Regions from separate parts of the Homo sapiens genome. Here all the other regions are reported to be linked to region 7. The links are microRNA targets in miRTarBase. Many come from high-throughput screens and were not tested one by one. Region 7 holds a microRNA gene; each other region holds the end of a gene's coding sequence. Distances are from middle to middle.

What was found. The annotated mature microRNA hsa-miR-4635 reads UCUUGAAGUCAGAACCCGCAA and lies in region 7 at 2,239-2,259, shown strand. An mRNA with a match to its seed (bases 2 to 7 or 8) in the 3' UTR can be bound and repressed. Matches are read on the target gene's strand: a 7mer-m8 pairs with bases 2 to 8, a 7mer-A1 pairs with bases 2 to 7 and ends in A, and an 8mer does both.
Region 1: miRTarBase lists DGKI as a target of hsa-miR-4635. The part of its 3' UTR that is shown has no 7-base or 8-base seed match.
Region 2: miRTarBase lists ENDOU as a target of hsa-miR-4635. Seed matches in the 3' UTR shown: 7mer-A1 at 1,011-1,017.
Region 3: miRTarBase lists SETD9 as a target of hsa-miR-4635. The part of its 3' UTR that is shown has no 7-base or 8-base seed match.
Region 4: the mRNA of TRIM72 is a reported target of hsa-miR-4635. Seed matches in the 3' UTR shown: 7mer-A1 at 3,344-3,350.
Region 5: the mRNA of PFN4 is a reported target of hsa-miR-4635. The part of its 3' UTR that is shown has no 7-base or 8-base seed match.
Region 6: the mRNA of TMEM9B is a reported target of hsa-miR-4635. Seed matches in the 3' UTR shown: 7mer-A1 at 3,087-3,093.

Annotation. Positions count from the first base shown.
Region 1 is chr7:137,387,710-137,391,777 of GRCh38, reverse strand. DGKI (diacylglycerol kinase iota) reads left to right here. Exons shown (of 33, transcript NM_001321708.2): 33 at 442-4,068. The coding sequence ends at 558. Among named protein-coding and RNA genes, the nearest start is that of PTN, 46 kb to the right of the region's middle.
Region 2 is chr12:47,707,289-47,711,349 of GRCh38, reverse strand. ENDOU (endonuclease, poly(U) specific) reads left to right here. Exons shown (of 10, transcript NM_001172439.2): 10 at 431-1,616. The coding sequence ends at 548. All of the region lies in intron 1 of RPAP3-DT (RPAP3 divergent transcript), which reads right to left. Among named protein-coding and RNA genes, the nearest start is that of RPAP3-DT, 3.2 kb to the right of the region's middle.
Region 3 is chr5:56,916,443-56,920,510 of GRCh38, forward strand. It overlaps SETD9 (SET domain containing 9), which reads left to right. Exons shown (of 6, transcript NM_153706.4): 6 at 373-906. The coding sequence ends at 460. MIER3 (MIER family member 3) reads right to left here. Exons shown (of 13, transcript NM_001297599.2): 13 at 3,161-4,068. Among named protein-coding and RNA genes, the nearest start is that of SETD9, 8.9 kb to the left of the region's middle.
Region 4 is chr16:31,224,269-31,228,335 of GRCh38, reverse strand. TRIM72 (tripartite motif containing 72) reads right to left here. Exons shown (of 7, transcript NM_001008274.4): 7 at 1-4,067. The coding sequence ends at 3,581. Among named protein-coding and RNA genes, the nearest start is that of PYDC1, 9.2 kb to the right of the region's middle.
Region 5 is chr2:24,112,120-24,116,187 of GRCh38, forward strand. PFN4 (profilin family member 4) reads right to left here. Exons shown (of 5, transcript NM_199346.3): 5 at 2,690-3,492. The coding sequence ends at 3,464. It also overlaps a transcript of FAM228B not described here. Among named protein-coding and RNA genes, the nearest start is that of PFN4, 9.2 kb to the right of the region's middle.
Region 6 is chr11:8,944,898-8,948,965 of GRCh38, forward strand. TMEM9B (TMEM9 domain family member B) reads right to left here. Exons shown (of 5, transcript NM_020644.3): 5 at 2,305-3,578. The coding sequence ends at 3,423. Among named protein-coding and RNA genes, the nearest start is that of ASCL3, 3.9 kb to the left of the region's middle.
Region 7 is chr5:1,061,099-1,065,162 of GRCh38, reverse strand. It overlaps MIR4635 (microRNA 4635), which reads left to right and starts at 2,189; the gene lies at 2,189-2,267. It overlaps SLC12A7 (solute carrier family 12 member 7), which reads left to right. Exons shown (of 24, transcript NM_006598.3): 19 at 911-1,080; 20 at 1,188-1,319.

The DNA.
Region 1 (4,068 bases), not on the chromosome of region 7:
AATAATAGAAAGAGTCCTAAACTAGAAATCTAAATGCCTGCCTCCCTATTTTTTAAATTCAGTAATTTCTACCTCCCCATCTTCCAGAAAGGCTCTGGGTTTCAAAACTCGCTTTACCCCACTGTTTCCTTCTGTATACTGTTAACCTCTGTGAACTTCTGTTTCCCTAGTATAAACCCCACCCGTCAAAAGTGATAAACTCTTTCCCTTTCATTTACCAATCGCACATGTTCAATTTAATGCTCATATAAGACAATAGATTTGAAAGTGTCTTGTAAACTCTAAAACACCAAATGTGAAAGGATCCTTACTAGCAGGTATCCTTGCGTAGTTCTGTTTCTGTGATTTTTGTTTTGTTTTGTTTTTTGTTTTTGTATTTCACGACTAGCGCTTGTGTCTATCTCTCTCTCTCTTTTTTTTTTTCTCACTATTTTCGTATAGGGTAAGACACCTCAAGAAAGAGCACAGCAGGCTGGGGACCCAGACTTGGCTGCTTACCTAGAAAGCCGTCAGAACTATAAGGTCATTGGCCATGAGGACCTGGAAACTGCTGTTTGACCCTGGTATTCGGGCAAAGAGGACATGAGCAAGCGTATCACATCTGCCCTCCCTGCAATTGGGCAGCTCCCCTGGAAGAAGCTGATGGAATTCATATATCTGTCTCTCTCCTGCAAGAATCTACCTGAGACCATGCCACTAGCTTTTAAGGGCTACCAAGATGTACAACAGAACATGATAGCCCATTGAGAAGGAGGCAGGATACCTGGAGATTTGTGGAATACAGTACGAGTTCCACAAAATTTGATCCTTATTGCTTCCAGCAAGTAGCATGAACTTCTGTGTTCACCTGTATAATTTATTTTAAAGATTCAAAGGATGTTCGTATAAATGGCACTGCTCCATCCTCCCCCTATGCATTGGTTTTTTTCCCTGTACCATACAATTCTACTGTAACTACCCATCAACTTAAAGAAAAATATTATCTCTTCTCTTTACATTCAGTCTTGGAAGACCACAAGATTGTCTGAAGGCCTTCTAAAACCTTCTGAATGTCCTGCAGAAATATAACTGTAAAACCACTTCCATTTCTAAGACTAAATATATCAAGACTATTTAGTGACTCTCTCTGCATGTCCCCCTCACCCGCCAACCCTCCGTTTCATTATATAGGAGCTGGGAAGTGCCACATGGATAATGTCAACTTGTGTGCTATATCTCTGAGGAATGGTGAGGTGGCATGGGAGATGTCTGTGCTTGGAGGTACCTCAGAGAGGTAACCCAGGGGTCAGCCCAGGCTGCTGGGCTGTAGCCAATAGCCATGCAGGACTGGTTCAGCTTGGGCTGTCTGTACAGCTCCGTACTGCCTATGTGTAGCCATCTTTGCCTTTTGCTGCAATAGAAGATGAGCAAAGGATTAAACAGAGGCCCACAGCTAGTTTGCAGAACCACTCAATTTTAAGTGCTGTTTAAATTGCAGAGCAAATAATCCTGTGTGGGAACTGTGGTTACAGGAAATGGAGCACTCTAACAATGTTTACTTCTAAACTTTGTTGAATGATAATAGAAAGCACCCTAATTGACTTGGAAAAAAAAAACAGCAAAAGCAAAAGTAGCAACATATGTCAACATATGTCACTGAAATAGGAAACAGTCATTGGAATGTTGCACAGAGGCTAATAACTATAGACTGTTGGATACAGTGGTGAGAGGAGCCCCATTTTAGGTCTTTCTTTTAGGTTTTTGGTTTTCATTACTCCAAGTAATCCTTGACCCAAGAACAAAGGCTTGTTGTATGAGTTCCACTGCCAGATTTATGGGATGCCTGGATCATTCAGAAGGATGCTTCAACTATTATTTGTCAGGTCCAAAGGTCGTACTTAATAACCCCATTTTCTATGTATGGGGTAGTCTAATATATTATTTTATCTACTTTATTTTTCCCTTTTCAGAAAGTCCTTAGTGCAAACCACCATTGGAATCTAGCCAGAAATGTCTGTCAGATAGTTAGAATTGTAACATCTAAACCTGCCACGGATCGAATGGTACTTACAGGTACCTCTCTTAGGGACTCTGTGATCCCTAAAATATCAGAAGAAAATGTCTGTCTTTCTGTCCAAATATCTACTTGACTTGGGGGTAAGTCAAAAATAAAAGTAGGTGTCCAAGGATTTTACTTTTGGCGAAATCTGACGTCTCCTGAGCTTATTTTCATTTTGTCCTTGGACATAGCATAGTGCTTCCCTAATGTTTCTACATATGACCATGAATGATAGTGTCTCTACATTTAATTTAAAAGTCTAATGGTGACATTTTGCTTATCTGAGTCACATTTCGGTAACATATCATCATTTTGAAAGTGCGGCTATGACGTGCTATATTAAACAGGAACAGCCTTTCAGTGGATGGGGATTTTATTACCACAGTCTTTCCATAGTCATTTCAAAATCAAATTGTTGGTGGGAGGATGGATTGGGTTGTGAGTAATCTACTTCCATATATCAGCCTCAGAAATGGAACTATCCTTTGGATATTACAGGAGACACTGCAGCAGATTGTTTCCAGAAGCTGGAAAAATATGCTCCAGGAGAATTTAATCACTGGGCTTTTGCTGGGGGATTTTTAGTTGGCGGGACTGTCAAGGAAATGTGATGACAGAAATATAATCCTTAACACAAACTGGAATCTGGCTTTGAATGGCATCTTCCATTCCCTGGATTGAGTCAAATGTTTGGCCAAGCAGTCAGTTATCTAGCTGTTACTGTTGGGATGAAGAACTCTGTTTTCATCAACTACCATCTCACATTTCTCTAAATACTTCCAAGTAGCCCAGAGAAAATTTAGGGTACAGGTGGCTATGGGCCAATTTCTAAATAGCTCCAATTGAAGACATAAATCTGTGTTATGAAAAATGATGAGTTGGTACTGTAAGATTCCTGATGCATTTGGAAATTTTTTCAAACCAAAAAAAAAAAAGGCATTAGAGTCCTGTGTTATTCATGGAGACCAATATTTGATATATCGCTTTGAAAAAAGCAAGTACCACTAGGACTTGGGATTTCCAAAATAAAGTGAGCAGAATAACCACATGTTTAATGGCTTCAACATTAAACCACCTCCTGTAGCATGTTTTAAAAATTGGTCCTGGGCTTTGGAAAGAGCTAAGGCCTTATGGTCTAGGAGTTTCCATCTCAGCTTAAGTATATTGTATCCCTACTATTAGGACATCAGGAAAGCAAGTGATCTAGTCCTGGTCTGAAGTGCCATGTAACTTTAACAGACATAAAAATATGTACCTATAGAAATATCATTTCTACAAAGCCTACTGAGACAGCACTGAAGAGGCAGCTAGCTTGGCTGACTCCTCTGTGTTTGTTTCTTTGTGTCATGGCACTGACTGCTTTGAGATTCCATTTTTAGATGTGGTTGATAGAGGAATGGAAAATGAAGAGTTATTAAAAGACAACATTCTGTAACCTGAAAGGTAGTCATTTTTGCAAGCTTATATTTTAATATTGTGCATTTAACAAAATAGAACACAGTTAAACTGTGCTTTATCGTATTCAAGGACTTCATAAAGAATAAGAGAGAAGATTAGTAAGCCAAGAATGGAATAAATACCATGACTAGGAATTTTGCTTTCAGAGCTTATGTTTCCTCTGTAGATGTGATAACCAAAAACCAGTGCAAGTTTTGAAACATAATTTAGCTGGCAAATGCACAGTGATGGAAATTAGTAATGACTGATGGAGAGCCGTACATACCTGTTGCTCCTTATCCTTTCAGAATGGCTGCTTTGGCAGATCTGCCTGTGCTGGGAGCTACTCAACATCACTTCATTTTCATCTGGACCTAGTGAGAGTCCCTTTGCCTAACGAATTTCTGAAATTTATTTATTTACTAGACCCCTTATAATATTCATGGCTTTAAAAAATGACACAGCATCTTTATTTTATTACATGTCAATTTTATTAATAATATTTAGGGGTTTTTTTAAATTATAAAAATGGCACATGCTTTTTATAAAATGTTTTAATACCACAGATGAGTATCACATCCACAGTCAAGGCA
Region 2 (4,061 bases), not on the chromosome of region 7:
TCTCAGCCTCTTTATTTGTCCCCTGAGGCTACTTAGGGGAACCTAGAGCTCCAGAAAGTACCATTAGGAACCACTGGGCTTCAAGTTCTCTAACATTCGGACACGTTGAGTTCTTCCACTTCTGAAACCCTAAGCAAATGTTTAATTTCTAAGGATTTCACCTCCAGAATCTGGGATTTTGGAATATTGCTCTGGGAAAGATGAGGAACAGCATTCTTTAAGAAGACAAGAAATAAGGCAAAGATTTTGAAATGGCTCCTTGCACATGGGGAGCTGGAGGCAGCTGCTGAAGAAAGCAGTGCCAGCTCTGTCTTTAAGGCTGTTTAAGCAGAATGGAGCCCTTCTGCTTCAGTTGGGCTTGATCCTTCCAGCCCAGGGAGAGGCAGCGTGAAGTGGGGAGCTCCTCTGATTTCAGGCTCTTTCCCCACAGGTGCCAGTTAAGCCTGGGAGGATATCCCTTAGCTGTCCGGACATATACCTGGGACAAGTCCACCTATGGGAATGGCAAGAAGTACATCGCCACAGCCTACATAGTGTCTTCCACCTAATAGAACTTCGAGCCAGAAAGGGGCATGAGGGCTCTTGCGAGACTGAAGTGCTATCTTCTCTGGACTAGAGAGAAGAGGGAGAGGACTGGAAGGGATCACCAAATCTCAAAGCAATGAGAAGCATTCCTAAATCCCAAAGTGCCCACATGGGAAAGAGATAAAATGTACAAATTAGAAAAATGTGGATAAACAGTCAAACCTTTATCCTCTAGAATTTTGGCAATGTTGACTAAGAAACAGAGTCCAAGCAGAGAAGGTAGGAACCCTCCATAGCTCTCTGCCCTGATGTGTGGGGGAACTAGGAAGAAGTCCTTTGACCTCACCAGGCCTCATGCTTCCCTTTAATGTAAAGGGAAGGGGTTTGCCCACTTTCCTCTTTTTGGGGTTGGTGAGAGGGCAAACCCTGATATTTTTACTGTGAAGGTGTTTTCAGTTGTTCTTAGGAAGAACAGCTGATAGAAATTCAAGATTACTATAATGGCTGTTATTATACACAGCTCTGTAAACTACCACTCAGCCCTGTGTTGGGGTCCTCAAAGAAGTAAGGCCACAGTAATCAAGCAAGGGCCTTTGGTTTTTTCCAGAGTTAGATCCTCTCAGAACAGAGTCTGGGAGAACTCCAATGCTGAATGGAGAAGGGTAATAGGTTGGTGCAGTGAATGGGCTGGGGGTGGGGTGGCCTTCTCCAGGCCTGAGTGTTTTTGTGTCCAGCTCAGTATCTGCAACAAGAAGTTTCCCACTTGTGGATGTTTAGTGCAGCCACAGACTTGTATTTTGATCCCCAATTTTTTTTTGAAAGAGTTCTCCTCATAGGAGGATGATTCAGCATCAGAAGAAGAAGGAACCCATAGCTTGGTGTCATTAACATAATTATTTTAAGCCTTATCCAGCAGCCATAATTTGAATAACTCTACGAGACCAGAGAGACTGTAGTTCCCTATTTTAACCTCAATTATGCATTTGTCCCCCAACCCCACTGAGAACTAAATGCTGTACCACAGAGCCGGGTGTGAACTATGGTTTAGAAGGTTCAAGTTTCCAATTAAAGTCATTGAAGAAAACTTGAAATGAGTGTCTTCTTTGTATATGGCCTCCCTCCAATGTCTGTCTCCCTGCCTTTTCCCTAGAGCAGGGCTGGCAGTGATACTTTTGCTCTAGAGTCTTTTCAGAATGGCTTGAAGAATGTGGTATCTGGGTGAAGTCTCTGTTGACTCACTAAGTCTCTCTAGCCAAGAGGGGAAGAGAATTCTGTAATATGAAGAGTGGAAGGATCATTGCATACAGATAGTGAGGCGGCCGGTGGGGGGGTGGTAAATGGAGATTGGTGGTCCCCATCCCCAATAACCAGTCCCCTTTATCAAATACACAGGAGTATAAGGACATTTCTGGATGTAGCTTCTGTGGTTGCAGAGGTTGACCACACTGGGGGAAGAGGAGATGCTAAAGAGATACAGAAAAAGACTTCTTATCTGTAAACAGATTACTCAAGCCACAATGCTAGAAAACGGTCAGGTATGAAGAGATACCTCGGGCAAGTTTATAGCCTGCAGATAGATGAAACAGGGCCTTGTCCTGCCCTTTCCCAGAGATGTTCACAGTCAATAGGCAAGACAGTGAGTCAGTAGAGCACAGGGGTAACAGGTACAGGCTCTGAAGTCATGTTGCCCAGGTACCTAGCCAGGCTCTGTTGCTTACTGGCCATATGAGCAAATTTCTTAATTATTCAGATTGTTTCCTCACCAGTCAAATGGGGATAATATTACCATTGTTGTGAGATAAGGAATGTGAAATAACATGCTAGTCTTTCTTATAGTAATTATTGTCTCACTTATTATACAGATTTAATTTTATACTGGGAGAGGCAATTTACTATCCCTGCTATCAGCCTTAACCTTCACCTACTGGTGCCCAGTACTTGTGCTCTTCATAGGCCTCTTCAGAGGTCTTCCAGGTAGTCCAGTAGGAGACAGAAAGACAGAAATGCAGGAGAGAGTACTGTATTCCAGGGTCTGGGCCTTAGCTTTGCAGGAGAGAAAGGTAAGAACTAACATTTGTTAAGCTGTTACCATGTCCCAAGCTGTGCTAAGTAGTCCTTTTATATTCATTTTCTCACTCTGGTGGGTATTTTTATCTTCACCACTTTAATTTTACCTAGACAACTGAGGATCAGATTAAGCCACATTCTTAGTCAGTAGCAGAATCAGGATTGCAAAATTCAACCCTTTTCCTCATGTTGTAGTGAGCCTGGATTTCTAGTAGTATCTACTCACTTATTCATTCATTATTTTTTAAAGAATATTTATTAAGACCCCTGACAGAGGCTGCTGGTTACCCCTCAGTATCTGCTCTCCTCTTCTTCCTTATTCACTGAAGTCTCAGTTTTTAGGTACACAAATGACTGTCAAGAGTACAGACTCTTGACCTCCCTTGCAACCAGAAGTAGGCGTGTGTCTATGTCCTCACCAATGGCATGCAAAAGGAAGTATTCTTAATGGGCAGGGGGTACCGTTATTCCCACTCTTGCCCTTTTCTGCCGACTGGATTTCAGACAAGATCGTGGGAGCTTGAGCAGCCAGCTTGAACCATGAATGAAAGCCATATGCTGAAGATCACAGAGCAGCCAGGAAGGAGCCTGGGTCTCACACCGAAACTGTCACACTAATCCTGGATTGCTTATATTCAGTTTTACATGAAAGAAAAATAATCTTTCATGTTTAAGCCACTCTTATTTTGGGCTTTCTGTCACATGCAACCAAACTTAACATAGTATCTCCATAACAGGAAGTCCCAAGGTTCATTTTCTTCCTAAAGTTACTTAGCTAATACTTCCTTTCTTAAGATTTACATTAACTGTCAGACTCTTTAACTATTTGAAAGAGCCCAATAATTGTTTTGGATATTAAAATTAATAGCATTTACAATCATTAATTGCAGCATTTTATTGTTGCAATAATAAACACTCCTGTTTATTTCCACTGACCATTACAACTGCAACACATAAAACACATAAAGAGGTTTGTCTCTTTGAAAATAACTCTTCAGGTATTAATGATAAGTTCAATTGAGATGACTGGAGTAAATGAATAAAAGAGACTTAAAAGAAAGGCATTATTTACACATTTTGTTGAAATCCATTTAAAGATAACTGCCAATAGAAGTGGGGAGGTCTGCAAGGAATCTAGGAAAGAACTTAAGGTGGCCTAGGTCTGAGCTCACAGGAGAGAAGGCTGCCATTGCAGGCACAGGTTTTGTGGGACAGCAGGAGCCTCAGAATTAGGTGATGATGACCATCAAAACCATTTGATTAACTTTTCTCACTTTGACTCTATATTCACTAAGCTACTTCTGATTATTGTATGGTTTGAGAGAGAAAAAGAGAGAGAAAAGCAGGGTCACCTAAGGGTCTATGAGGTTTTACTAGAGCAGCCAGCTAGCCCCCTTATCTCTCTTCTCAATCAACTCTGTCAGAATTAATAAAACAAATGTGGTTGCTTTTGTTAAAAACACCAGTAA
Region 3 (4,068 bases), 56 Mb from region 7:
ACTCCAACTAATTTTAAGTAATGTTTTCATTTTTCAGGATATAAGATACAAATGAATGCAAGAAAAACTATAATGTCATTTTAAAATCCTTTTTGTGATACTAGTTTTGGGGGCCTAAACTTAGAAACAATGTTTTCAGAAGAAGTAGTCAGTTGTATAAACATTGATTTGTGATTTTTTAAATGATATAGATATACTCTTTAGAATACCTGCATCAGGAATAAGAACTATTTCCTCATGGAAATCAAATGCATAAACTAAAATGGAAGGAACCTGAGTAAAGTTACCTCTATAAAAGCCATCTTGGTTATATTAAAAATATGAGCTTATATTTGTTAATGCTCTACCTTTTGTATATCTTTTTGTTTTCAGCCCACTTCGATGTGTTGTTCTTGTCGCACTTAGGGACATCAATCAAGGAGAAGAGCTTTTTTCAAACTACTACACAATTGTCAGCTAACTCTGTGAATCAGAAATTATTAGGTTTTCTACTCAGCTATTAATTCTAAGTGTTTTTTGTTAATCACTTCTCTGAGTTCTACCTGTAAAACAAATATTTTGAGACTTAATTGGAATAGGAATTTCTTATGTTTTTGTTGATATTATATTTATGTTCCAATTTCATGATAAAAGCTACTTGCTTCATTACAATTTCAAATTTGTAATGCAATTCCAAGTTTAATTGGTTTTCACCTAAATACACAATAGCTTATTAAATTAAAACCTACTCTTTGAACTTATAATTTCAATTTTTCTTTTGTTTATTTTGTAAGCTCTGTGGTGGTTTATAAAATTGTAGCCAGGCATCAGCAGTTCTTGTAGTACTGCTGATGTGTACAAACTTCTGTAAAAACTTTATTTTTACAGAATTGAGTAAAAAATACCTATTGTGTTGCCATGAGTAAATTGGTGTGTCTATGTATAATGTAAAGATTGCTCTAGCTGGCTGAGGGGAAAATGTGAGGTCATTATTACTATTTTCTTTACTCTTTGAACATTTTCACACCAAAGAAAAGGTGGAAAAAAAGTGCAAGATAGTGTTGGTGGGAGGAACACTTATTCCCCGTGTCTCATGTCTTCATGTGGAGGGCTTCCACTGGTTAATGTTCCTAGCCTCTCTCTCCACCCACTGGAGGGAGATTGACTCCCTGATTATGTTTGGAGAATAACTAGGCACCCATGTCCTATATACCCTTCTAGTTCCTTCCCTGTGGACTCTGGCTGCCAGCAGAAAGAATGTGTCCTGGCAGTTCTCTGCCTTGTGCAGAGAATAGCCTGTAGCCAGCCCAGCCAGTGACAGAGTGAGTCCAGAGGTGTAATATATTGGCAGGCCAACCTGGCTGCAGCCCTGAAGCTACCTTCCCGTTTTATTAGCAATAGTTACTTTGACCTCCATCGACCTGACTCCAGCTCTCTCAGTTCCAAACTTGGATAGGAAGGAGGGTGTTCTTTACTGGATCCCTCAAAAATTCATGGAACCTATATGACCAGATTCTGATTACCTTCACTTCCTTACCACCAGCTTTACTCACCTAGTTTATTGCAATTTCAGTAGCCTCTCAATTGCCTTCCTTGTTTCCACTCCTGTCCCCCTTACAGAACATATCACCAAGTGTGATTCTTTTAAATGAAAGTCAGGTATTGACATACGTCTGCTCAAAACCCTCTCCCTATCATGGAGTAAATGCTGAAGTCCTTCACATGCATAACCTGCTCATGACCTCAAGAGCTCCTCTCCTTTCTCCCCTTGCTCACTCCATCCCAACCCACACCTGCCTCCTGGCCACTCCCCAAACCTGCCAGGCACATTCCCAACCAAGGACTTTTGCACTTAGTTCTCTCTGCCTGTAAACATCTTCCCCCAGACAGCCACATAGCTTGTTCTCTCCCTTCCTGTCACCTCAGTGAGGAGCGTTGCCTCATCACCCCACTGAAATTTACAATCCCTCACTGCTCCCAACCCTGACATATTCCTCATTCTCTTTAGCACTTACCACCAGCAAGCTCAAAAAGCGTACCATAGATGGAAATTATGGCCAAAATGACTTCTAGTAACAGATGTACTAGATTATCCTGCTTCCACAGGCTTTTCCGTCTCCTAAAGCCTGAAAATACTCTGAGCTCTCACATGGCACATTGTTGCATTCTTGCTGTATTCGGAATATGTGTGCTTGTCCCTGCTCTGAAGGCACTTCTGTGCATGTGTCCACCACAGAGCCCTATGTGCTAAGGTCCTTTCGTGTCTGACAAGGAAGGGATGTGGTTTTAGTCAAGTAACCAAAGCAGAGGAGTCAAGATTTTTGCTTTCCTTTTATCCCCTTCTTGGCCTTGTACAAACTTTGGATATTATGGGCAAGCTGATCACTGCATCTTAAAAATGGAACTACATAAAGCTCTGGTCAGAGGAAATGAAATATGGGGACAAACTTGTGAAATAATGGCAAGATAGGAGCTTTAGCTTAAAAAGATGTTTAGGAAAGATAGATATGACTACGGTCAAACTATGAATCGTATGGATAAGGAAGACTAGTTGACCATAAATGTAGTCTGTCAAATAATAATAATATTTGACCAAATTTCAGATCTGTCTGTCTTCATAAAAGACAGTTACCTAGAACAGCGTTTGAAACATAATAAATGTTTCCTGAATTAAACTAAAAGTATAATCCTTACTTTGGGACTTCTTTTTTTTTTTTTTTTTGAGATGGAGTCTCAGTCTGTTGTCCAGGCTGGAGTGCAATGGCAGGATCTCAGCTCACTGCAACCACCACCCCCAGGGTTCAAGCAATTTTCCTGCCTCAGCCTCCTGAGTAGCTGGGGTTACAGGCATGCGCCACCTCGCTCGGCTGATTTTTGTATTTTTAGTAGAGACGGGGTTTCACTATGTTGGTCAGGCTGGTCTTGAACTCCTGACCTCATGATCTGCCCGCCTCGGCCTCTCAAAGTGTTGGGATTACAGGGGGACTTTTATTATAGATGGAAATTATAGAGGATTTAAGGAAAATATTTAATCTACCAACTTCACTATCTATCATATATCTTATTTACTGCATCTAAAACCAATTTAACAGTGGTATAATATCTATCTATTTGCTGTAGCTTAAGATTCATTAAATAAAATATCTGTATTTTTGGCAAATATTCACACAAACCAAGAAAAAAAGATTCCCAGATTTTTATTTCTGGAACTGTACACCAGGTATTAAAGTACAACAAATACAAAATAATGCTCAAAAAAATCAGTGTTTATGTACAAATATTAAAATCAATGCAATAGCAACTTCCTCTTGAACATCTGATACTGAAACTTGTTCTGATTGTCACTAATTTATCTCATACTCACAGGGTACTTATTTCAAACTGGGACAATTGGAATCACTGGTCATCTAAGAGGAATATTAATATCTACCATATTTAACAATAAAACTAATAGTTTCCTCCATTTAGTGAAAAAATTAGGAACTTTTTAAAAAACATAGTAACGTCAATATTTTATAAATTATTTCAATTTCCATTTGTAGACAATGTGCTTTGAAACTCTGGGCAAACAATCTCCTTGGTGGTCAGGTTTATTTGTTAGTTTACATTCAAAGTTGAAATATTCACTAGAGACTTTGGTTAAATTAAATAGTATCACTATGCTCTATTAGATCTGATGTTCTCAAATATTTATGAGCCTCAACATTTTAAAAATTAAAAAGGAAATGATTGCACAATTCTTTGATCTAATTGTACAAATTTTAGTATTTTTTAAACAGTATTCTACATCCTTCAAGTAAATTCAGCAGCTGACCATGACAAGAGGAAAACTAAACATTTAAAAAGCTAGCATGAAAAAGATGAAGTACAACTAACAAATGTATTGCTATAATCACAGCACCAGTTACACTTCTAAATGAATCCACTGTCCTTTTCAAATTCCCTGTACATAAAAGATATATCAGCCAACACTGCAACTGCTCACCATGAATTTTTGGTTTGTTCATAAGAAAATAATGGGGCAAAGGAAAAAAAAACAAAAAGAATTTATCACAGTTTGTTATAAGAATTGTGCTTAACACTTGATAA
Region 4 (4,067 bases), not on the chromosome of region 7:
AGAGCTTTTGTTATGTGGTTTTATCTTTCAATATTTGCCCTGTTAGATATTAAAACAGAGAACTTTTCTTTTTAAGATGAAGCTGGGGCTGGGCGCGGCGGTTCAAGCCTGTAATCCTAGTACTTTGGGAGGCCGAGTTGGGGGATCCCCTGAGGTCAGGAGTTCGAGACCAGGCTGGCCAACATAGTGAAGCCCCTGTCCCCACTAGAAATACAAAAATCAGCTAGGCGTAGTGTCACCTGCCTATAGTCCCAGCTACTCGGGAGGCTGAGGCAGGAGGATCACTTGAACCTGGGAGGCAGAGGTTGCAGTGAGCCAAGATCACACCACTGCACTCTAACCTGGGTGACACGGTGAGACTCCATCTCAAAAAATAATAATAAAATAAAAGATGAAGCTGGGCTGGGCTCAGTGGCTCACACCTGTAATCCCAACACTTTGGGAAGCCAAGATGGGAGGATCGCTTGAGGCCAGGAGCTCGAGACCAGCATGAGCAACATAGTGAGACCTCATCTCTACCAAAATACAAAAAATAAAAAATAGTCAGGCATGGTGATGGGTGCCTGCCATCCTATCTACTCAGGAGGCTGGAGTGGGAGGATCATGTGAGCCCAGGAGGTCAAGGCTGCAGTGAGCCACAATCACACCATTGCACTCCAGCCTGTGCGACAGAGCAAGACCTTGTCTCAAAAAAAAAAATTGTTTTTTAACTAAAAACAGATGAAGCTGGAAGGCCAGCCTGTAATCCCAGCACTTTGGGAGGCCAAAATGGGTGGATCACCTGAGGTCAGGAGTTCGAGACCAGCCTGGCGGGCACCTGTAATCCCAGCTACTCGGGAGGCTGAGGCAGGAGAATCCCTTGAACCTAGGAGGCGGAGGTTACGGTGATCACACCACTGCACTCCAGCCTGGGCGACAGAGCGAGACTCTGTCTCAAACAAAACAAACAAACCAACCAACAAAAAAAATGGCAGAACAGCTCAAATGCTAAGCCAAAGACTGGGGGCTTTATCCTGTAGGCAAGAGGGAGTTGTTGAAAGTTTTGAGCAACTGAGTCCCGTGACCACATTTGCATTTTTGGAAACATTACCAAGTCAGGATTAAAGGCTGGAGGGCAATTAGGAGGCCTTGCAGTAGGTCACATGTCTTTTCATGTGGATTTAATGAGGAAGGAGTCAGAATATAACAGTTTTATTAATGGTGTTGGATTTTACAACCAAATAATCCCTTAGCTATATTGTTTTATTTTCTAACATGAAAGAGCTTCTACCGTTAATCCTCTCTTCTGTCTCCTGAAGCCAGGGCTCCACAGGCCTTCCTCTGGGAGACACACCCAGGTGTGCCGCCTTCCCCTGCCAGATCCTCAGGCCTTTCTTACCCAACTCACAACTTCCCTTTCACCCTTAGTCCCATACCCACCATCTCCCGAGAAAACCTCCGCAATGGGCTGCCGGGGCCCCAGGCCCTTCCACCCATCCCGCCAGCACACCCTCCCCGTGAAAATGAGTGACCCCAGGCCAGCGTCTTCCCTCAGGAGAGAAGCCTGTCTGGATCCCCAAAGGCCTCTCCCTCCAGGGAAGAGGGACTCTCACTCTGGCCTCAGTGGTTACTCCAGAGCCCAAGAAATGCCCTGTGCGCTAAAACCAAAGAAGGTGTGAACCAGCAAGTAAGTGGGGAGCGGCCAGTTCTGGGACATCTAGTTGGGGGCCTTCTCTTCCCCATGAGCAGCAGGGACCAGTGTGACCTTGGCATCAGGCTCTTTCTCTTGGCTGGCTTCCTCAACGTTCAAGACGCTCGATAAACATATCCCAGAGGCAAAGCAAGTTAAGTCGAGGGTTGTTTATTCACCTAGAATCAGCTCCAGCCATTTTCCAATGTCTTCTTTTTGTTGTTTTTCTGGTTTTTGTTGCAACAGGGTCTCACTATGTTCCCCAGGCTGGTCTCAAACTCCTGGCCTCAAATGAGCCTCCTGCCTCAAACTCCCAAAGTGTTGGGTTTACAGGCATGAGTACCCAGCCCTTAAGTGTCTTTGCTTTGGTTTATGTTTGTTTGTTTCCTTCCACTCCTGGTGCAAACCTTACATGTTTTTGACTGGGGAAACATATTTTGGACCTATGCCTCTACACTGACAGTGAAGAGCCCAATGGGTTGTGCACTAGGTCAGGGCTTCCCGCAGCGTCAGCCCCTGTGGCCAGCAGCGTCACCTGGGAACCTGCTAGAAATGCACATTTTTGGCAGGGCGTGGTGGCTCACACCTGTAATCCCAGCACTTGGAAGGCCAAGGCAGGAGGATCACCTGAGGCCAAGAGTTCAAGATCAGCCTGGGCAATGTAACGAGACACCATTTCTACAAAAACTAAATTAAAAAAAAAAAAATGAGCATTTTCAGCCAGGTGCAGTGGCTCATGTCTGTAATCCCAGCACTATGGGAGGCCAAGGCGGGTGAATCACTTGAGGTCAGGAGTTCGAGACCAGCTTGGCCAACATAGTGAAACCCCTACTAAAAATAAAAATAAATAGCCAGGTGTGGTGGCGGGCGTCTGTAGTCCCAGCTACTTGGGAGGCTGAGGCATGAGAATTGCTTGAACCCTGGAGGCAGAGGTTGCAGTGAGCCGAGATGGCACCACTGCACTCTAGCCTTGAGTGACAGAGCAAGACTCTGTCTCAAAAAAAAAAAAAAAAAAAAAAAAAAGAAATAAAAAAAAGAAATGAGCATTTTTGACCTGTCCAACCTACTAAATCAGAAACTTAGCACCCTATGCTTTAACAAGTCATGGCTAAGGGCTTTAAAAAGGTGATTTTAATGCATGCCTAAGGTGGAGAACTAAGGAGAAGGCTTTTGGGTAAGGTGAATCTGGAGCGGGGGACCCAAGGCCTAAGGAGGAGGGGAGTGTGAGGCAAAAGGAGCCCCTTATCTACAGGTTCTCAAGCTCCTCCCATCAATCCCCCAACCTGGCCCTGTCCCTCCCTCGCTCAACCTTAGTTTCTTCCTGGAATTCTCAGGCCTCCTGGTTCCCAAATTCTGATTTCCCCACTGACCTGACTCCAGATCTCCCTACCCCACTGGGTCTTGTCCCCAGCGTCACTCCAACCCCTCACCAGCAGTCCCCAGGCCATGCCAACCCCCACACTTTTTTTTTTTTTTGAGACAGAGTCTCACTCTTGTCACCCAGGCTAGAGTGCAGTGCCGCAATGTCTGCTCACTGCAACCTCCACCTCCTGGGTTCAAGCAATTATCCTGCCTCAGCCTCCCAACTAGCTGGGATTACAGGCGTATGCCACCGCGCCCAGCTCATTTTTGTATTTTCAGTAGAGAGGAGTTTCACCATGTTGGCCAGGCTGGTCTTGAACTCCTGACCTCAGGTGATCCACCCGCCTCCGTCTCCCAAAGTGCTGGGATTACAGGCATGAGCCACCAAGCCAGTCCTACCCCACGCTTGTCAGTATTCTGGGAGATCCCCCAGTTCCCAGCCCCCTGGGCCCTGGCAACCCGCTCCCCACCCTTCTCCCGTCAGACCCGACCAAGGAGACCTAAGCTTCAACCCAGGCCCCCGCGCCCCTCCACTACCCGTCCGGCGGCTCAGGCCTCGGCGCCTTCGGGACCCACGAGCAGCAGCGGCTGGGCATTCTTGCCCTTGTCGTGCCAGCACACGTCGAAGAAGGGGTACACGGGCCTGGGCAGGCGCTCGTGGAAGGCAAAAAGCGGCACGAGCGCGTCGGCGTCGCTGGCATCGTAGAAGGAGAGGACGCCGTCGCCGAAGCTCAGGTAAAGGCCAATGCGCGTGGGCCGCCTCTCGGGGCTGCGCAGAGCGCGCGGCTCCTTGGCCTCCACGTGTGCCTCCAGGATCTTGCCCTCGCGCAGCCCCAGCAGCCACAGGCCCTGCGAGGGCACCGCGTGCAGGCGCCCGCGGCGGGGGGCCTCGGCCGCGATCACGCCCAGCGCCCAGCGCGGCTTGTCGCCAACATCCACCTCCCAGTAGTGCTCGCCCTCGGAGAGCTGCTGGTGCGCCACCACCGCCACCGCCTTGTCGAACTGGCGCGGGTCCTCCCCGGCCGGCGGCGCCTTC
Region 5 (4,068 bases), not on the chromosome of region 7:
ATTTAAAATGTTTTTGAAGCAATTTAAAGACATTCAAGGTCTCATAGCATCATGCTAAATGAACATAGTGGAATGTCAACTCTATGCATTAAGGCTAGGTAAGGTTAAAATGTATATATTATGTGCATCAAAAGAGACCTGAAGAAAATCTCAAAACCATCACCAGAAGCTTTCATCTTTTTTTTTTTTTTTTTTTTTGAGGTGGAGTTTCGCTCTTGTCGCCCAGGGTAGAGTGCCGTGGCGCGATCTTGGCTCACTGCAACCTCCGCCTCCTGGGTTCAAGCGATTCTTGTGCCTCAGCCTCCTGAGTAGCTAGGATTACAGGCACCTGCTATGACGCCCAGCTCATTTTTGTATTTTTTAGTAGAGATGGGGTTTTGCCATGTTGGCCAGTCTGGTCTCAAACTCCTGACCTCAGCTGATCCGCCAGCCTCAGTCTCCCAAAGTGCTGGGATTATGGGCATGAGCCACCATGCCGGGCCCAGAAATTTTCACTTAATGTGAAATTATGACTAACTTATTTTCCCAAGTTATAAAAGTGAGTGTATATTACTTTTGTAATCCTAATTTAATAGTTTTCTAAAAGTACTGTCTACCCCACAGCACTGCTTGATGTCTTCTGAGTGACTCCAAGGAGAGTAGCCTTTTCTATTTTGGCTCTATCCATCTTCCCATTTTCATTGATCACTGTCTCCCACGTACTGCTTTCCAGCCACATGGAACCTCTCACCATTCTTTCCACACAACAGGCCTTTTCATCACTCTGTGCCTTGGCATTTGGTGCTCCTTCAGCCTGGAATACTCTTTACTCTCTTCCATACTCACTCTTCTTCCAAATGCACTTCAAATGCTAGTTTCAGGTTCCTGAAGACACAGTTAGTCTTCAGGACTGTGCTCTGTAGTTGTTTTACACCTGCTCCAGCATTTATCATGTGGTCATGTGACTCATTTACAACTTGCCTTCCCCACTAAATTGTGAGCCTGTCTTGGGGTAGATGTATTATTTACTGTTGTATCATTACTACCTAGCACAAAGCCGACTATGTGCTAGGTAGTGGTGATACAACAGTAAACAATACATCTAAATACACTTATTTAACGTTCTTATTACAAAGAATGCTAAATAAGTTAATTTAAAATTTACTGTTATCTCTTTTCAAAAAGAATCAAAGGCCAGATGCAGTGTCTCGCTCTTGTAATCTCAGCACTTTGGGAGGCCGAGGCAGAACGATTGCTTGAGCCCAGGAGTTCTAGACCAGCCTGTGCAACATGGTGAGACCCCATCTTTACAAAAAATTTAAAAATTAGCTGCACGTGGCATGTGCCTATAACCCTAGCTACTCGGGAGGCTGAAGTGGAAGCATCGCTTGAGCTTAGGAGATTGAGGCTGTAGTTAACTGTGATCACACCACTGCACTCCAGCCTGGGTTATGGAGTGAGACCCTGTTTCAAAACAAAAATAAAAACAAAAAACAGGCCGGGCACAGTGGCTGAGGCCTGTAATCCCACCACTTTGGGAGGCGGAGGCGGGTGGATCACCTGAGGTCAGGAGTTCGAGGCCAGCCTGACCAACATGGCAAAACCCCGTCTCTACTAAAAATACAAAAATTAGCTAGGTGTAGTAGTGGGTGCCTGTAATCCCAGCTACTTGGGGGGCTGAGGCAGGAGATTCACTTGAAACCTGGAGGTGGAGGTTGCAGTGAGCCGAGATTGCACCATTGCACGCCAGCCTGGGTGACAAGAGCAAAACTCTGTCTCAAAACAAACAACAACAACAAAACCCCCAAAAGAATCAAACTACTGACTAAATAATGGATGAACGGACTAGTGGCAAGGCTACCAATCAAAAACTAAAACAAAAACAAAAAAACAAATCTGTGGTACTTGGCCATCCAAGCTCAGAAAAGGAATGATGTTGGAAGTAAGTTCTGTGTAAGGCTATTATACAGAGCTGAAAATGAGATAATTTTGTAAATACCAGCAAAAGACATCCTGCCCTAGATGGCATGTCTTTGGAATTTTGAATTCTGTACCTCACTGCCTGATTACAACTATAAAGGACCTAAGATTTGATTTTACTTGACTTACAAAGGCTAGTAAGTTAGGGTTTGCCACAAGGAGATGCTGAATCTGGGGGACAAAAAGAACATGAAAGGGCTCCCGTTTCCCAATCTCCTGAGATCGAATGTGTTCCCTCTCCAGGTGCTAGGGTCTCCGTGGCCATGCAGTTGGTGTGTCCCATCCCAGTAGCCATGTCTATACTTTTTCTCCAATCGTGCCCTACTTGCTTCCAGACATCTTGTCTGGAAGGGTCAGATGTAAGAGGGACAGGGGCATTTTTGCAAAATTAAAGAGAACCATTATATCCTATCTTGGCCTGTGTAGAACCCTGTAGAGGGATCTAGAGAACAGTGTACTTAACTAAGTAGTCATTATCGTCATGATATAGGACCATGTTAGTCCAATCTAGCTGAACCAGAATTAAATTTGAATTCCCTAGGCTGTCTTTTTTTAAGTAGTCGAAGGTGGTCTCTCCCCAGGGACATCTGAAGGGTATACCAACCAGGCTGGCCTGAGGATGTTGTCAGGGAAAAAAAGATGCATCATGTTTAGCAATAGTCAGTGTAGAATCTTGAATTTTCAAAATAGGTTCTATAGCTCTCCACCCTTATGGTCCAGATTATCACCTAGGAGACCAAGAGGAGATGAACTCTTTCTGGGGAAGGGTGCATTTAGTGACCATACTGCCTTACTAAGGTGTGCAGTGAGAGTTAGGGTTAGAGTCAGAAATCTTTTTGAGTTGATTTTTGAGAAGGCCTTTCCAATGTTCAAAATGATACCAGATACCTGCAAATGGGAGTGTGAAATGTCCATTGAATACCTTGACTAGTGGTCCATTGTTGAATGGCCTTTGCAATCCCTTCTCCCAAGTCTCACCGGGGTGATGTGAGCCAGACAGATGTCACACATGCAGGGAGTTGTATTACAGGAGGGGTAACACTGAGCTCAGGGACTCCACTGCTTTTATAGCAAACAGTAAGCAAGCTTGCTCTCTGTCCTGATGGGAGACATCCCTTCATTTTTCAAGGTTGCTTGCTGCAACCTAACCCTGAGAAATGTCTTGGATAAAGAGTGGTGAGAGCCTTGCATTCTTGGCATACTTAGCAAGGTGTGTAGGAGTACAAGAGCCTCACAGAAAGGAGCCTCCCAATAGATATGCTCTGTGAAATGATCAGTGCTCTCTCATTCCATGCCGATGACCAACACTTATTAAAAAACAGTTGATCAAGTAATTCCAGTGAAAGAAGAGGATCTCTGGAAGTAATAAAAATTGCTCCCTTAATTCATTCTTCTTTTTTAGTGCCTTCTGTCTAGTGTTTTTTCAACCATAAAATATTTTTTCTTTAGGCTCTTCAATTTTCTTCTAAAATAATAAAATTGTCTTTCATGGGCCTCTGATGACTTAACTTCCTTTTTTTCTTAGGTAGTCTCCTGAAAGCAAACACAGCATGGTTATTATTTATGAGCTGCAAATTATCACTACAAATGATTCATTCATCCATTTATTATTCCACAAACATTGCCAGGTGACTGCCATGTGCTAGGCACTGTGCTAGGTACTGGAGAAACAAGGGTGACTGGATAGTTGAAACACAGTTCCTGCCCTCATGGAGTTCACTGTCTAGTAGGGGATATAGGCACACACAAACATCAATTCTATTTCATGGTAATAAGTGCCATAGTAGAGGTATTTGAGTTGTCCTGGAGTATGAATTGGGTTCCCATGCAAAAAAAAAAAAAAAAAAGGATGAATAATGCATATGGCTGGGCAAAGGGAACAGGGTGAGAGAGGGCTCAGGAGAATAAAAGAAACTGCTGCCCTCCTCTCCTATATGTATTCTATGACCTAGACTTAAAACTGATTACGGCCAAGTGTGGTGGCTCATATCTGTAATCCCAGCACTTTGGGAGGCCGAGGTGGGTTGATCATGAGGTCAGGAGATCGAGACCATCCTGGCTAACATGGTGAAAATTCATCTCTACTAAAAATACAAAAAATTAGCCAGG
Region 6 (4,068 bases), not on the chromosome of region 7:
GTCTTCTCATGGCTTGAAATCTCATTTCTTTTTAGCGCTGATTATTCCATTGTCTGGTTGTATCACAATTTGTTTATCCGTTCACCTACTAAAGGAAATCTTAGTTGCCTCCAAATTTTGGCACTTATGAGTAAAGCTGCTATAAACATCTGCATGCAGGGTTTTGTGTGGACATGATTTCAACTCATTGGGTAATTATTATGGAGCACAATTGCTGGACCATATAGTAAGGGTATGTTTAGTTTTGTAAGGTTGCTGTACCATTTTGTATTCCCACCAGCAATAAAAGAAAGTTCCTGTTGCTCCACATCCTTGAGAGCATTTGGTGTTATCAGTGTCGTAGATTTTGGTCATTCTAATAGGTGTGTATTGGTATCCCATTGTTGTTTCAGTTTGCATTTCCCTGATGACATATGATGTGGAACATCTTTTCATATGCTTATTTGCCATCTGTATCTCCTCTTTGGTGAGGTGTCCAGGACTTTTGCCCATTTTTAAATCAAATTTTTTGTCCCTTATTAAGTATTTTTTGTATATTTTAGATAGCAGTCCTTTATCAGCTATGTCATCACCACCATCTAGATCTTCTCCTATGTTATCTTCTGAAAGTTTTGTAGTTTTGCATTTTACATGTAGGCCTATGATCTATTTTGAATTAATTTTTGTGAAGGGTACAGGGTATGTAACTAGATTTCTTTGCATGTGGATGTCCAGTTGTTCCAGCACCATTTGTTGAAAAGACTATCTTTTCTCCATTGTATTGCTTTTGCTCCTTTGTCAAAGATCAGTTGACTGTATTTATATGGGCCTATTTCTGGGTTCTCTATCCTGTTCCACTGATCTGTCTTTTTTGCCAGTAGCATACTGTCATGATTACTGTAGTTTTATAGTAAGTCTCAAAGGTAGTGTTAGTTTTCTGACTTTGTTGTTCTCCTTTAATATTGTGTTGGCTATTCTGTCTTTGGCTTTTTTATAACCTTTAGAATAAGTTTAATATCCACAAAATAACTTTCTGGGATATTGATTGGGATTGCATTGAATCAATAGATCAAGTTGGAAAGAACCGCCATCTAAACAATATTGAGCCTTCCTATTAATGAATATGAAATATATCTTCATTTGTTTAGTTCTTTGGTTTATTTAATCATTTTTGCAGTTGTCCTCATATAGATCTTAGATACATTTTACTAGGTTTATACCTAAGTATTTTATTTTGGGGGTGCTACTATGAATAGTATTGTTTTTAATTTCAAATTCCACTGTTTGTGGCTGATATATAGGAAAACGGTTGACATTTTTTAGAGACAGGGTCTTGCTGTGTTGCCCAGACTGGAGTGCAGTAGCTATTCATGCAGCAATCATAGCTCACTGCAGCCTCAAAACTCCTGGCTTCAAGTAATCCTCCTGCTTCAGCCTCCTGAGTAGCTGGGACTACAGATACATGCCACTGCACCTGGTTTGATTGACTTTTGTATACTAACCTTGTATCCTGCAAGCCTTTATAATCACTTATTAGTTCTATTATTGTTGTTGTCAATTCTTCTGGGTTTTCTACATAGACAATCATTGCATCAGTAAACAAAGACAGTTCTATTCCTTCCTTCTCAATATTTATACCTTTTATTTCCTTTTCTTGTCTCACTGCATTGGCTAGGACTTCCAGTACAACTAGGACTTCCAGTGCAATGTTGAAAAGGAATAGTAAGAGAAGACGTCCTCGCCTTATTCCTGATCTTAATGGGAAAGCTTCTAATTTCTCATTATTAAGTATATGATGTTAGCTGTGGTTTTTTTGTTAGCTCATTTCTTTATCTAGTTGAAGTTCTCTATTCCTAGTTTCCTGAGAATTTTTATCATGAATGGGGTTATTTTGTCAAATGCTTTCTCTGCTATTGATAAAATTCATGTAATTTTTCTTCTTTAGAAATGTTATTTTCAAATGTTGAACCAGCTTTTCATACCTGGGATAAATCCCACTTGGTCATGGTTGAAATTAAATTTTTTAATACTAACAATAAAATTGATAATTTATATATTTGTAGGTGCTTAAAATTTTACTAAACCCCAAAATCCCATTAATGGCTCCTAAAACCTCACTTTTATGAATTTAATTCTGATTTTTTTGGGCCAAGAATTTCTCAGAACAAGTACTCCTTCAGGAATTTGAAATCTCCCAATTTATCAAAATATTAGTATACTTTTCAGAGATCCACCCCCAAATTCATATATTCTGTCTATACATGCAAACACATAATTTACACCAATATTTTACGGTTAGATTGGTATAAAACAGTAGTCTCAGAACAGGGTACAAAATGTCTTTATATCTTCAATCTCATTATACAGCAAAAGAGGGAGGAGGAAAAAACTAGGAGACATAGATAGATACACTGATGGATGTTTCAAAAATTATTTTTATTGTTACATTCCAAAGAGGACATAGGAAGAAAAAAGCCAGTTATCCAATAATGGTTAGACCTTTCAGAAGAGGCACCCACAACCCCAGCCCTAGTTCAAAGCTGCACACATTGGAGCTCAAACAGCTGCCTCTCACCACGACCGGAAATGCTGACAAATGTGTATATATTATCAATCCAGGGAGGCTTGGGTTTAAAATAAAATTTCTTTATTGCAAGTGTCCAAGTCCTTAGGATTTGTCCTTAAAGGTACTAGAAGATGAGTAAGACCACACACACCAAGACTATGTTTAGTCTTTAGAGTAAACTAGCAAATGGCCAGTTTGTTCTAGGATGCATTGCATCAGACATCACAGTACATGAAGAAAATCTGCTTTTTGTGAAAAGCCACCAGGCATTTTAGATCCCGTTTACCATGAAGTGCAGACACAGCAGATACCCAGATAATACAGTCAGTGCAAAAGTCAAATGAGTAAGTCAGCTCTTTGATGAGGCTGGCTACACTGCAAAATATAAATGAAACTCGAAAATAGAAGGTAAGGTCTATTTACAAAAGTTTGTTTAGTAAAGTGACTTGAAAAAAGTTGTTAACCACTTCCCAGGCATCCCTCCCCTCTCCCACCAAAACAAACAAACAAAAAACAACAACAACAAAAACCCTGAAAATTATCTTGAAAGTCAAGTTAAAACTATGTGGTGAAAAAGAGAGTGCTTGTTCCAGGTAAAGGACTTCAAGATAATTTACAGGCAGATTTATTTTTATTAGTAAAAGTCACAAATAGGAAAAGACTTATTGGCTGACTTTGAGCTGTGTGCTTTTAAAAATGTCTCTATTATTACGTTAACAAGAAAAAAAAATCAAGCAAGTTTTTGCTTCCAGTTTTGAATCTTCCAGCAACAGTTGGTGAAATCAACAAGGTATTAAAATGAAACCCAGCAAAACCCAGTCAGTTCTTTCCAGTTGTCTGCCTGTTTCTTTCTAGTCACCTTGAATTCAATTCCCAATTAGCTGAGGACAACATGCCGGTCAAAGACAGACTTTCGCTGCTCTTGGACTTGAAGCTTCCAGCGCTGCTGTGCATATTCTACCTTGTTCAGCACGTTGGCTCGACTGCGGGAGCGGGCTAGCACATCGTGTGCATTTGCAAAAGGCTGGTGATCCTAAAAGTCCAGGAATGGAGAACATTAGAGATGGCACAGTCAGTGTAAAACATAGACACACAACAGTGACCAGCCCGCCACAGAAATAGGGGTAGGTGGACTTTTCAAACAACAGAGCATCTATTTAGCTAAGCACTCCTAAGCGCTCAACTACCAGATAGAGTATGAACTCAAGTACAGACCTAGGTGGTTCAAGAAACATAAGCGATGACAGAGTATTTGTGAAACGTTCCCATGGATTGCCATTTCCAAAGATATTTCCCTTAAAGAAGTGGAGACCAAGCAAAAGACAGTGGTCATTTGTGTTAAAGAGAAGCCTTCCTTAACTGATAGGGAAAAGAAAATCTATTTTCATGTTAACATCTCTCCATGTTATAGATATGGAAAGTAGGGTCTTTCCTTGCTTTATTCGATACTATAAAGCTAATCTGTGGCAGAGGAAAGATCTGTCTTTTAATTTCCTGTCTCCATTAGAATTGTTTTCTTGCCA
Region 7 (4,064 bases):
TTTTCGTCCCCACTGTCCCCTTGGTGTCCCCTCTGCATCCCCTCGCCGTCCCCTCACTGTCCCCTGTGTGTCTCCTCAGTGTCCCCTTGCTGTCCCCTCACTGTCCCCCTCTGCCTCCCCTCGCTGTCCCCTCACTGTCCCGTGTCCCCTCAGTCTCCTCTGCATCCCTTTGCCATCCCCTCGCTGTCCCCTAACCGTCCCCTCACCATCTCTTCGCCGTCCCCTCACTGTCCCCTCACCATCTCCTCGCCGTCCCCTCGCGGTCCCCTCACCATCTCCTCGCCGTCCCCTCGCTGTCCCCTCGCCGTCTCCTCGCCGTCGCTTCGCCGTCCCCTCGCCGTTCCCTCACTGTCCCCTCGCCGTCTCCTCGCTGTCCCCTCACCGTCCCCTTGCTGTCCCTTCACCGTCTCCTCGCCGTCCCCTCGCTGTCCCTTCACCGTCTCCTCGCTGTCCCCTCACCGTCCCCTCACTGTCCCTTCACCGTCTCCTCGCTATCCCTTCACTGTCTCCTCGCCGTCCCCTCTGTCTCCTCGCTGTCCCCTCAACGTCCCCAGGCCTGTGCGCTGTCAGGTCCCGATGGGCCTTGAGGCCACCGACCCGAGGGTGTGTGCTCTGAGGCTGTCGAAGGCCCTGGCCCTGGGAGCGGCCATCTGAAAGTGTCCAGGCACTCCCTCCCCTTCTCCCAGAGCCCCGCAGGGGCTGGGGGATTCCCTGGACACATGACCAGCAGCTGAACTCTGCTGTGAGTCTCTGGCTGGTCCTTGGAGGAGCTGACGGAGTGAGGGTGGGGGCTTTGTGGGGACCCCCCTCGCCTCGCCGTGCCCGCCCCTGCACTGGCTGTGAGTCCCCGGGGAGGCCCCTTCCGCACCCTGGCCTCAGATGACCTGCGGACGGCCGCCTCTCTCCGCAGACACCGTCCGCGACACCACCGCCGCGCACCAGGCTCTGCTGGTGGCCAAGAACGTCGACTCGTTTCCGCAAAACCAGGAGCGCTTCGGCGGGGGCCACATCGACGTGTGGTGGATCGTGCACGACGGCGGCATGCTCATGCTGCTGCCCTTCCTGCTGCGCCAGCACAAGGTGGGGCGTGCGACGGGGACACGCCAGCCGGAGCACGGCCACCCCACGTGCTGCGGGCCGGGACGGGCTCCTCTGAGGCCCCACAGCCATGCCCTCCCTGTCTGCAGGTGTGGAGGAAGTGCCGGATGCGTATCTTCACCGTGGCCCAGGTGGACGACAACAGCATCCAGATGAAGAAGGACCTGCAGATGTTCTTGTACCACTTGCGCATCAGCGCCGAGGTGGAGGTGGTGGAGATGGTGAGTCCCGAGGGCTTGAGGGGAGGAGGCCGGGGGGAGGTGGGGAGGAGGTGGGGGGCGGCCCGGGAGGGCTGTGGGCCTCGTGAGGTGGGGGTGGAGGGGGAAGTGGAGATCGGGAGGGCTGTGGCCTCGTGAGGTGGGGGTGGAGGGGGAAGTGGAGATCGGGAGGGCTGTGGCCTCGTGAGGTGGGGGTGGAGGGGGAGATCAGGAGGTGGAGGTGGAGGTGGGGAGGAGAAGGTGGTGGCGATTGTGGCGGGGGCTGCCAGGCCTTGCGGGGTGGTCAAGGAGGCTTGGTTTTGGAATCGCCAGGACATCACAGAAAGCACAGAGCCCCGTGTGTTGCTTGTGGACACCTCGTGTAACACGGGTGTGGGTGTTGCCCTAGAGCCGGCATCAGCATCTCCGTGTCCTCCATGGTCCCGTGTCCTCCTCGGCCCGGGACCCCGTCCAGGACCTCACACCTCAGTGGTGTTGCCATGGTGGGTGCACCTCTGAGCACCTCCCGTTTTGGGTGCTCTCCCCAGATGGGCTCACCTTCCCACGGCTGGAAACCACACATCAGCAGTCGGGACCCGGGGAGAGGGGCACTGGTCAGTGAGGCCAGGCTGCAGCTGTCACGTGGGACAGACAGGCCCTCGGTCAGCTATAGGCAGGGCCTGGACAGAGACTCGTCCCGTCCTTCACGCCTGGAGAGGACGGGGTTGATGGGCGGAGGCCTGGCATTGGAGCGCTTGCCCCCGGCCCCCAAGCATGGAGCTCTGGATCCTGGGGATCTGGTGGGCCCCTTGTGCTGGATGGAACCATGCCTGCTCGCTACCAGCCCACCCGGATCCACGGCTGTGCCTTCCCCTCCGGTCCTGCTGGCGGTCCCGGGACTTTGTGGGTTCTGACCCCACTTGGATCACGCCGACAACACTGGTCTTGAAGTCAGAACCCGCAAAGTCCTGGTTTCTTCCGGCTCCCGTGACCCCAGCGCATGGTTTTGCAGGTCCTCAGGGGCCTGGACTCCTGGAGGTGGGTGCTGGGAAGACATAAAGCTGGATAGAGACTGTCACGCTGTCCCCCAGGAAGCCACCTGTGCCCCTGCAGCAGCCTGGGAGGTGCGGTCTCTCCAGCCCCGCAGCCCCCCAGTCCCCCAGTCCCTCAGTCCCCCAGCCCCCCAGCCCCCCAGCCCTGGGTATGGCAGAGGCCCCGAGCACCTGCTCCTGGTTTGTGTCGGGCTGTGAGTGAGGCCAGGCACGGCTTCGTGCCTCACCGACAACCTTCTGTGTTTCTGTGTCAGTTCCCGTGGAACTCAGTTGTCCTGTGGGGTTGTTCTTCCTCTTGCCCTGCAGGACCTTTCCTAGGCCGAGGGCTGCAGGCCTGCGTGACGCTGGATGGTTTTCTGCCCAGTTTTGTACACTGGGCTTAGTTTCCATGTGGCTGTGTCTTCGGGGACGATGGCTGGAGTTTGTCTTGTTTGGACGAGGCTTTGCGGGTTCAAGGTTGTAGGGGTTATTATTGGTGCTAATAGTCGTATGAATAACGTTATTTCCAAGTCATAAAACCGCTTAGTAAAATAGTAACAAAATGCTGCCTGGGAGAACCAGCCCTGCCAGGGGGCCAGGTGGGGCGGCCACTGGGGCCCAGAGGAAACAGGCAAAGTGAGCCCATGGCCCCAGCCGCACCCCCAGCCCCTCCGTGGTGCCAGAAGCAGCTCCCCAGCTCCTGAGCAGGGGTTGTTAGCTCTGAAGTCCGGGAACCTGGAGCTCCCAGCACCCCCCATGCTCCCAGCCATGTCTCTGGCAGGGCTGGGGCTGCCCACCCCTCCGTAGCCCTGGCCGCAGGGACAAGTGCCACCTGGCTGGAGAGGGGCGTCTGGGTCGCTGCCATTCAGTCTGGCATGCTGTTTATTTTTTTAAAAAAAGTTTTGAGACAGAGTCTCGCTCTGTCCCCAAGGCTGGAACCTCCACCTCCTGGGTTCAGGCAATTCTCCTGCCTCAGCCTCCTGAGTAGCTGGGACTACAGGTACACGTCACCATACCTGGCTAATTTTTTTTTTTTTCTTTGTATTTTTAGTAGCAATGGGGTTTCACCATGATGGCCAGGCTGGTCTCGAACTTCTGACCTCAGGTGATCCACCCGCCTCGGCCTCCCAAAGTGTTGGGATGACAGGTGTGAGCCACCGCACCTGATCTGGTGTGCTGTTTTAAATACTGGTGCTTAACAGGCACAGCTGCTCCCAACTCCCATGAGCCGGGTGCGGCGGGTGAGACACAGGGATCCCGCACGGCGGGTGCGGTGGGTGAGACGCAGGGGTCCCGCATGGCGGATGCGGCAGGTGCGGCGGGTGCGGCGGGTGAGACTCAGGGATCCCGCACGGCGGGTGCGGCGGGTGAGACTCAGGGATCCCGCACGGCGGGTGCGGTGGGTGAGACGCAGGGGTCCCGCATGGCGGATGCGGCAGGTACGGCGGGTGCGGCGGGTGAGACTCAGGGATCCCGCACGGCGGGTGCGGCGGGTGAGACTCAGGGATCCCGCACGGCGGGTGCGGCGGGTGAGACTCAGGGATCCTGCACGGCAGGTGCGGTGGGTGAGACGCAGGGGTTCCGCATGGCGGATGCGGCAGGTACGGCGGGTGCGGTGGGTGAGACGCAGGGATCCCGCACGGCGGGTGCGGTGGGTGAGACGCAGGGGTCCCGCACGGCGGGTGCGGCGGGTGAGACGCAGGGGTCCCGCACGGCGGGTGCGGTGGGTGAGACGCAG